Linked DNA regions of Homo sapiens. The protein of the gene in region 1 purifies or fractionates together with the protein of each later gene. This does not show direct contact. Each region holds a gene or a part of one and is shown in the gene's direction. Other genes may lie near its edges.

Evidence for each region.
Region 2: the proteins of ZBTB6 (region 1) and SAR1B purify together in Homo sapiens (affinity purification with mass spectrometry, with the first as the bait; one large-scale study listed by BioGRID). This does not show direct contact.

The regions. Positions count from the first base shown.
Region 1 is NC_000009.12:122,910,429-122,914,806, reverse strand, and holds the start of ZBTB6 (zinc finger and BTB domain-containing protein 6), read left to right. Parts: upstream 1-1,483; 5' UTR 1,484-1,556; intron 1,557-2,725; 5' UTR 2,726-2,734; coding exon 2,735-4,009; 3' UTR 4,010-4,378. UniProt on the Homo sapiens protein: May be involved in transcriptional regulation.
Region 2 is NC_000005.10:134,605,305-134,609,121, reverse strand, and holds part of SAR1B (small COPII coat GTPase SAR1B), read left to right. Parts: intron 1-618; coding exon 619-750; intron 751-2,055; coding exon 2,056-2,172; 3' UTR 2,173-3,817. UniProt on the Homo sapiens protein: Small GTPase that cycles between an active GTP-bound and an inactive GDP-bound state and mainly functions in vesicle-mediated endoplasmic reticulum (ER) to Golgi transport.

The DNA.
Region 1 (4,378 bases):
AATTGCTTGAACCTGCTAGGCGGAGGTTGCGGTAGGCCGAGATCGTGCCACTGCACTCCAGCCTGGACCACAGAGTGAGACTCTGTCTCAAAAAAAAAAGAAAAAGAATTTCTTCAGTCATATCTTCATTCAGCACAAATACTTGATGCCTACCAAGTGCTAGACTTCGAGAATACAAAGATCAGTAAGCCACTGTCCTAAATAACTCTGCCTAGATGAGGCACAAATTAATACAGGCGTGTTAAGTGCAATAATGAAGGCAGGAAAAGGGATTACAGGTTTCAAACTGGGAACCAATTATCTTAGGGCAGTTCAGGATGGCTTCAGGATGATGAGATTTATAAACGGGTTCTTTAAAGATACGTTGGGGAAGGCCGGGCTCGGTGGCTCACGCCTGTAATCCCAGCACTTTGGGAGGCCAAGGCGGGCGGATCACGAGGTCAGGAGATCGAGACCATCCTGGCTAACACGGTGAAACCCCGTCTCTACTAAAAATACAAAAAAAAAAAAATTAGCCAGGCGAAGTGGCGGGCACCTGAAGTCCCAGCTTACTCGGGAGGCTGAGGCAGGAGAATGGCGTGAACCCAGGAGGCGGAGCTTGCAGTGAGCCGAGATCCTGCCGCTGCACTCCAGCCTGGGCGACAGAGAGAGACTCCGTCTCAAAAAAAAAAAAAAAAAGCCTGGGGAAAAGGCTAGGGCACGTCAGAGGAAACAGCTGGGCCAAAAGTTTTGGGATGGAGGAACGCATTTAAGTGTGAAGCTAGATCCAGAGGTTGGGGCCATCTCCTGATGGGGCATTATCTAGGCAATCTCGAATACGGATCTTTATGATAGTTTCTGCTCTGCCACCTTTCAAGTTGTAGGTGGCCCCAATAAGGAGAGGAATCGTCCCAGAATAATCCATAAAAGGTCTGGTTACTCTGACAGACGTGCCGTAACCGAACCTCAAACCCCGTCTCCAATTCGGATGTTCAGGAGGACTCACAAAAGGAAATGGCTCGGCTGGGCGCGGTGGCTCAACCCGGTAATCCCAGCATTTAGGGAGGCCGAGGCGGGCGGATCTCCTGAGGTCAGGAGTTCGATACCAGCCTAGCCAACATGGTGAAACCCCGTCTCTACTAAAAATACAAAAATGAGCCGGGCGTGGTGGCGGGCGCCTGTAATCTCAGCTACTTGGGAGGCTGCGGAGCGAGAGTCGCTTGAACCCGGGAGGCGAAGGTTGCAGTGAGCCGAAATCGCGCCATTGCACTCCAGCCTGGGCAACAAGAGCGAAACTCCGTCTTAAAAAAAAAAAGGGATGGTGGGGGAAAACGGCTCGAGTGCCGAAACTGGGACAAGAGAGATGGGGCTTGCCGGCATTCAGGAGCCTTTCTGTCATTCCAAGAGGGGGGAAGTGAGGAAGGAAGACCGTCTCAGAATGTCCTTCCGGGGCGCCTAGAGGGCCCCAGTAAAGAATAAAGCTGGTTGGCACCGGATGTGTTTTCTTCCAGGCTAAGTCCATCTTCCGGCTTGGGCAGACGCTGCCGCGGAATCCTTGACTCTAGTTTTCTGAGTCGGTGAGTGAGTGCAAAGTAGATTCCTCAGGTGGAGGGTGCCTGAGGAAGAGGAGGAGGAGGAGGAGGACAGCTGGGCTCGGCCCCGGAGTGGCTAATCTTGTGCTGCAACCACTGGGCCGACAGGGCCTTGGCCCTTCGCAGGGTTGCCTCCAGAATACCTGTGTGCTGAACCTGGCATCCGGTTTCAGTTCAGCAGATGTTCCCTGAGCTCCTCCTGCTCTGTGTGGGCCCCTGAGCTCGGTGCAGGAACACAGATGCATCAGGCACCATCTCGCGGTGCTCAGAGAGCAGCTGACTCTCTCTGGTTGAAACGGGAGGTGGAGTCATATTAGTTTTACTTGATTTGGGCTTAAAGGAGCCTAATCACTAGCTGAAAAAAGGAACTGGAAACGCGAATGTAAGAAATGTGTATTCGTGTCTTTTTGTCTGGGTAATGATGGAAAAATTTAGTATTGAACGAGGTTCGAGTATGAAAAAGAGAATAGAAGGTGATAAAGCCATAAAGATGGGTTAGAGCCAAATCGTGATGGGTCTCGTATTCTTTCCTAAGAAATCTGGACTGTCCCGGAGGTAGAGAAGAACGATAGAAGATTTAAAGCAGAAAAGGGAAATTAAAAATAAAATAAAATAAGGGTTGTTAATCCTGGTGGCACTCAGGCGGGTAATCTGGCATACAGAAGAGTGTGGTATAAAGAAGACCTGTTGGAAGACATTGCAGTTGTCCAGGTGAACCGGAAGGAGGACCTGTTGTAGTGGTGGGGAGTAGGAAGTTTGGAGATTACGTTAAAGTTGCTAATTGGATATATTATGTTAAATCAACTTTTTGGTGGTCACAGTGCTTATATTGGATATTCAAAATTGATAGATTGTTCTTGACCACAAGGCACACAACATTTAGCAAAAGAAACAAGCTAGAAACTGTTCACTACAATTCATTGTAATGAATGTTGTAACAAAGTTATGAAAAATGTGCTATGAGATCATAGAGAAGTGCATTATAAAGTTCTCGTTTTGAGATGGTGGCATAAAGGTTCATAACACCTACATTAGACTTTGAGTCTTCTTCTTCCTAATTCAGGTTTGGGGTTTTTCGTTTGTTTTCACCATTACAGCATGGGAAAGCATTCCCTATCCTTATTACATCAATGTTTGTGTTTTATTTTGCTTAGATTGTGATCATGGCTGCTGAGTCTGATGTTCTGCATTTCCAGTTTGAACAGCAAGGAGATGTGGTCTTGCAGAAAATGAATCTTTTGAGACAGCAGAATTTATTTTGTGATGTATCAATTTACATTAATGACACTGAGTTCCAGGGGCACAAGGTGATTTTGGCTGCTTGCTCCACTTTTATGAGAGATCAGTTTTTACTCACACAGTCAAAACATGTCAGAATCACCATCTTACAGAGTGCAGAAGTTGGCAGAAAATTGTTACTGTCTTGCTATACTGGAGCACTTGAAGTTAAAAGGAAAGAGCTTTTGAAATACTTGACTGCTGCCAGTTACCTTCAGATGGTTCACATTGTGGAAAAGTGCACAGAAGCTTTGTCAAAGTATCTGGAAATTGATCTTTCTATGAAAAACAACAACCAACACACTGACCTGTGTCAGTCTTCTGATCCTGATGTTAAGAATGAAGATGAAAATTCTGATAAAGACTGTGAGATAATTGAAATTTCAGAAGATAGTCCTGTAAACATAGATTTCCATGTTAAAGAAGAGGAAAGCAATGCTTTGCAGTCTACAGTAGAGAGTCTGACATCAGAGAGAAAGGAAATGAAGTCACCAGAGCTGTCTACAGTAGACATAGGTTTTAAAGACAATGAAATTTGTATCCTTCATGTAGAATCCATCAGTACAGCTGGTGTCGAAAATGGGCAGTTTTCACAGCCTTGTACCTCTTCAAAAGCAAGCATGTATTTCTCTGAAACACAGCATTCATTGATCAATTCTACAGTTGAGAGCAGAGTGGCTGAAGTTCCTGGGAATCAAGATCAGGGCTTATTTTGTGAGAATACTGAAGGAAGTTATGGTACAGTGAGTGAGATTCAGAATCTGGAGGAAGGTTATTCACTGAGGCACCAGTGCCCCAGGTGTCCTCGAGGCTTTCTTCATGTTGAAAACTATCTGCGCCACCTTAAAATGCATAAACTATTCTTATGCTTACAGTGCGGAAAAACATTTACACAGAAGAAAAATCTCAACCGACACATCCGAGGACACATGGGCATACGGCCCTTTCAGTGTACTGTGTGCTTGAAGACATTTACTGCCAAAAGCACACTTCAGGACCACTTGAACATACACAGTGGGGATCGGCCATACAAATGCCACTGTTGTGATATGGATTTCAAGCACAAGTCTGCTCTCAAAAAGCACTTAACCTCTGTCCATGGCAGAAGCAGTGGTGAAAAACTATCTAGGCCTGATCTCAAAAGGCAAAGTCTACTATAATTATAATCACAGACTTGTTATATAAAGTTTGTATTATTCTATTACGCAAGTCTTTCTGTAGAGATGCAGCATTTGTAATATTTCATCCCCCCAATCTTTGTTTCTTATATTTTGTCGGCTTACACATAATCATTCTTTCTGAACTTCTAACAGTTCCAAAGTTATGGGAGGCACAGTAAAGCTGATGGGATTCTGTCTCATCTCATACCTTACATATAAGTCTCAGTAGTATCCCTAGAGAAATAGTGTTCCTCTCTTATATATTCTTGATTCTAGTGACAAAGGATCCAGCAGTATTTGCAGATTCCGATTTGGAGTCTCTAGGTAATTGATTTAAGTATAAAATCCAATCATATAAAAACTTTAATG
Region 2 (3,817 bases), on another chromosome or scaffold:
GTAAAGGGGCCCAACAGCAGCAGGCAAGGTCAGCACCAGATCTGGGGCCACAGAGTAAGCAGGTCCATGATTTGATTGAAGGTTGATCATACCATGGCTCTGCCCAGAGCAGGCAAACAAATACTTGTACGTGTGGAAAAGTCCAGGTAGGTTCTATGGTTACAAAACAAGGACAGAGAATGCCTGAGTTCCTACTTTGTTCCAGAGACTGTGCGTATTACTTGATTTAATTCTCAATTTCATAGGGTGGATGCTACTGTTCCTAATTCTCTCTAGAGCTTCAGTCAGGCTAACTTGCCCAAAGTCACATCTCAAAAGCAGTAGAGCCAGAAGTGAAACCACATCTGTTCACTTCTAAGGTGCTGGCTCTATACGTTCTATGTCACTCCTTTAAAGGATGAGCAGAGTAAACATTTACAGGAAGAGCCTTAGGAAGACAGAAGAATTTAGCTTATGGTTTCATTGAGGTCACTTTAAAATGTGGGGAAAGTTTGACAAAGAACGTTGGTATGACATGATATGGTAGAAAATGAGTCCTTTATTGTTTTATCATATCAAAATAAGCTCTTTGGATGGTTTCATATCAACTCTTGTTTTGTATTGTTTTGTTTTTTTCAGTCACTAATGACAGATGAAACCATTGCTAATGTGCCTATACTGATTCTTGGGAATAAGATCGACAGACCTGAAGCCATCAGTGAAGAGAGGTTGCGAGAGATGTTTGGTTTATATGGTCAGACAACAGGAAAGGTAAAAAAAAAAAAAAAATTATGATGGGTGTGTTTAATTCTACAGTACAAATGTCTTCTTAAATTACTATTGTCCAACTATACAAGCCCATTATCATTTTCTTAAAGAAAACTGTCATTTATACCTGTGGGTCTTTTTAATGTCCTCATTTCTTTCTACCATGGAATGAAACATTTTCTTGGTGACAACAAAAATGTCAAGGATGAGTTATGCCTAAGGCTTGTGCTTATAGGAAACTAAATTAAAGCTTTCAAAGTTATTTATCATACATTTTCAGAATTAGCCACCAAACGATATATTTGAGTGTTTAAGTATACCAGTAGTGTGTTTAGGCCCTGAGTTTACCAGAGATAAATAAGACATAAACTTGGAATATTTTACGGTTTTCTGAACATATACTTTATAATAAGCTTTAAGACGGATTGTTTTGGTATTCACTTTTCCTAGGATTTATTTTGGGGGAAACATCAGCATTGAAAAAATCCAGATAAACAGTGGAAGAACCCCAGAGATTTACAAAATTTTTTTAGTTTACATATACTATTTCAGGGTGGAGAAATACTGCAGCATATAGCAGGAGGCTCTTTTTTTTTTTTTTTGAGATGGAGTTTTGCTCTTGTTGCCCAGGCTGGAGTACAATGGTGCAATCTCGGCTCATTGCAACCTCTGCCTCCCAGGTTCAAGCGATTCTCCTGCCTCAGCCTCCCTGGTAGCTGGGATTACAGGCGTGTGCCAGCACGCCCAGCTAATTTTGTATTTTTGGTAGAGACGGGGTTTCTCCATGTTGGTCAGTCTGGTCTCGAACTCCTGACCTCAGGTGATCCGCCCGCCTTGGCCTCCCAGAGTGCTGAGATTACAGGCATGAGCCACCACGCCCGGTCCGCAGGAGGCTCTTAAGTCAGACAAAGTAGACTTTGGTCTGTTTTCTGTCTTCTTTTTTATAAATTAGCTTGATATTAATTTTAGGAAATGCTTTGTTTGGTCATAAACCTTCTCAGGGAATGTTTGTCTTTAATATTAGTGAAGCCAGTTTGGATTTTTTTCTAAGTCAGATTATTTTTATTCTTGGGTATCTTGCAAGCTAACCTCTTTCCCACTGAGTGGCCATCCTGCCCTAAGGTAGAGTGAGAGAAGGAGGCTTCTTGTGTGTTCATGGGGCTTGGATGCCAAGCAGCCACGACTTTATCACAGTCATGGATTTATCACAGCCATTCTTTGTTCTAAAATAGAACCTATAATTCTGCTGGGATGTGGGGCTTTATTAATTTTATAAAATTCCAACGAAATGTCTCTCTTCTATTCTAGGGGAGTATATCTCTGAAAGAACTGAATGCCCGACCCTTAGAAGTTTTCATGTGTAGTGTGCTCAAAAGACAAGGTTACGGAGAAGGCTTCCGCTGGATGGCACAGTACATTGATTAACACAAACTCACATTGGTTCCAGGTCTCAACGTTCAGGCTTACTCAGAGATTTGATTGCTCAACATGCATAACTTGAATTCAATAGACTTTTGCTGGTTATAAAACAGATGTTTTTTAGATTATTAATATTAAATCAACTTAATTTGAATGAGAATTGAAAACTGATTCAAGTAAGTTTGAGTATCACAATGTTAGCTTTCTAATTCCATAAAAGTACTTGGTTTTTACAGTTTATAATCTGACATCACCCCAGCGCCATTTGTAAAGAGCAACTTTCCAGCAGTACATTTGAAGCACTTTTTAACAACATGAAACTATAAACCATATTTAAAAGCTCATCATGTTAAATTTTTTATGTACTTTTCTGGAACTAGTTTTTAAATTTTAGATTATATGTCCACCTATCTTAAGTGTACAGTTAATAATTAGCTTATTCAATGATTGCATGATGCCTTACAGTTTTCAATAACTTTTTTTCTTATGCAAACGTCATGCAATAAAACAAACTCTAATGTTTGGCATCCTTGTTGGGCAAATGTTTCATTTAAATGTGTCTTATCTAGCTAGTATACTCTGAAAATTTGAGTATTTAATATTAGGCATATGAAGTGGTTGTTGGGAAAGGAGATTCCTTCAGAATATTTAGAATAGCGTTTAAGGCTCTCAAGGCTTAGGTATTTACCATGAGATGGTTGTGGTCAGTTGCACCTGATACCATGTATCCCTGAATCATGTGTATTTTTATTAGTAATGCAGCCACTACCATTGCTGATGGGGTCTGTGTCCTAGTCCCTGTGGGATTGGCCTTCTGAAGAAAAGCACATTTATGGTACACAAGGTTGATTCTCAGTTTGGTAGGCTCTATAGTTCCATCCCAGCTGTCTAATTCTGAAGTGCTCCAGTCTTATTGGTGCCCAATGGGGTAATCTGTGCCTCTTCCCCAAAAGCAATGACAGGCACCAGTGTCTCCACATTTAGATATATTCCCAGTCTCTGTACATTTAACAGTACTCTCTGGGGCAAGCAATAAGTAGGACCTTGTGTGCAGTTTCATTGTAGAGACATGTATATCTGAGGAATAAAACAGCTTGTTCTGTGTCAGTCTGAGATATGTGGAGATTTTGTTCCTATCCTATAGCTCTTTTGTATTCTTTGGCATATTTTATATCCTGGTAGAAGAAAACAAGTGCTTGTTTCCAATTTTCTTTTTTCTTATTTGCTCTCAGGTAGTTCTTACTCCATACAACAAAGACTTTTTGTTTGTTGGGCTTTTTTTTTTTTTTTTTTTTTGCTCTGTTTCATTTTGTTTTAGAGACGGGGTTTCACCATGTTGTCCAGGCTGGTCTCAAACTCCTGACCTCAAGTGATCTGCCCGCCTTGGCCTCCCAAAGTTCTGGGATTATAGGCGTGAGCTACCATGCCTGACCTGACTTTTGTTTTTAGATATTATGCTTGCCATGTGATAGGGCCTGCAAGCCTCATTGCTAGGCTTACTAAGAAAATTTTAGTTTTTCAAAAGCATTATAATTTCCTAAGAAACTGAATTCTTTTTTTATATGTTTGAGATTCCCATCATTAGTAATATAAGATGAAAGGTAAGTGCCAAAAATGTATTTTTAAAGACCCTCAAGTTTAAGATTTATCC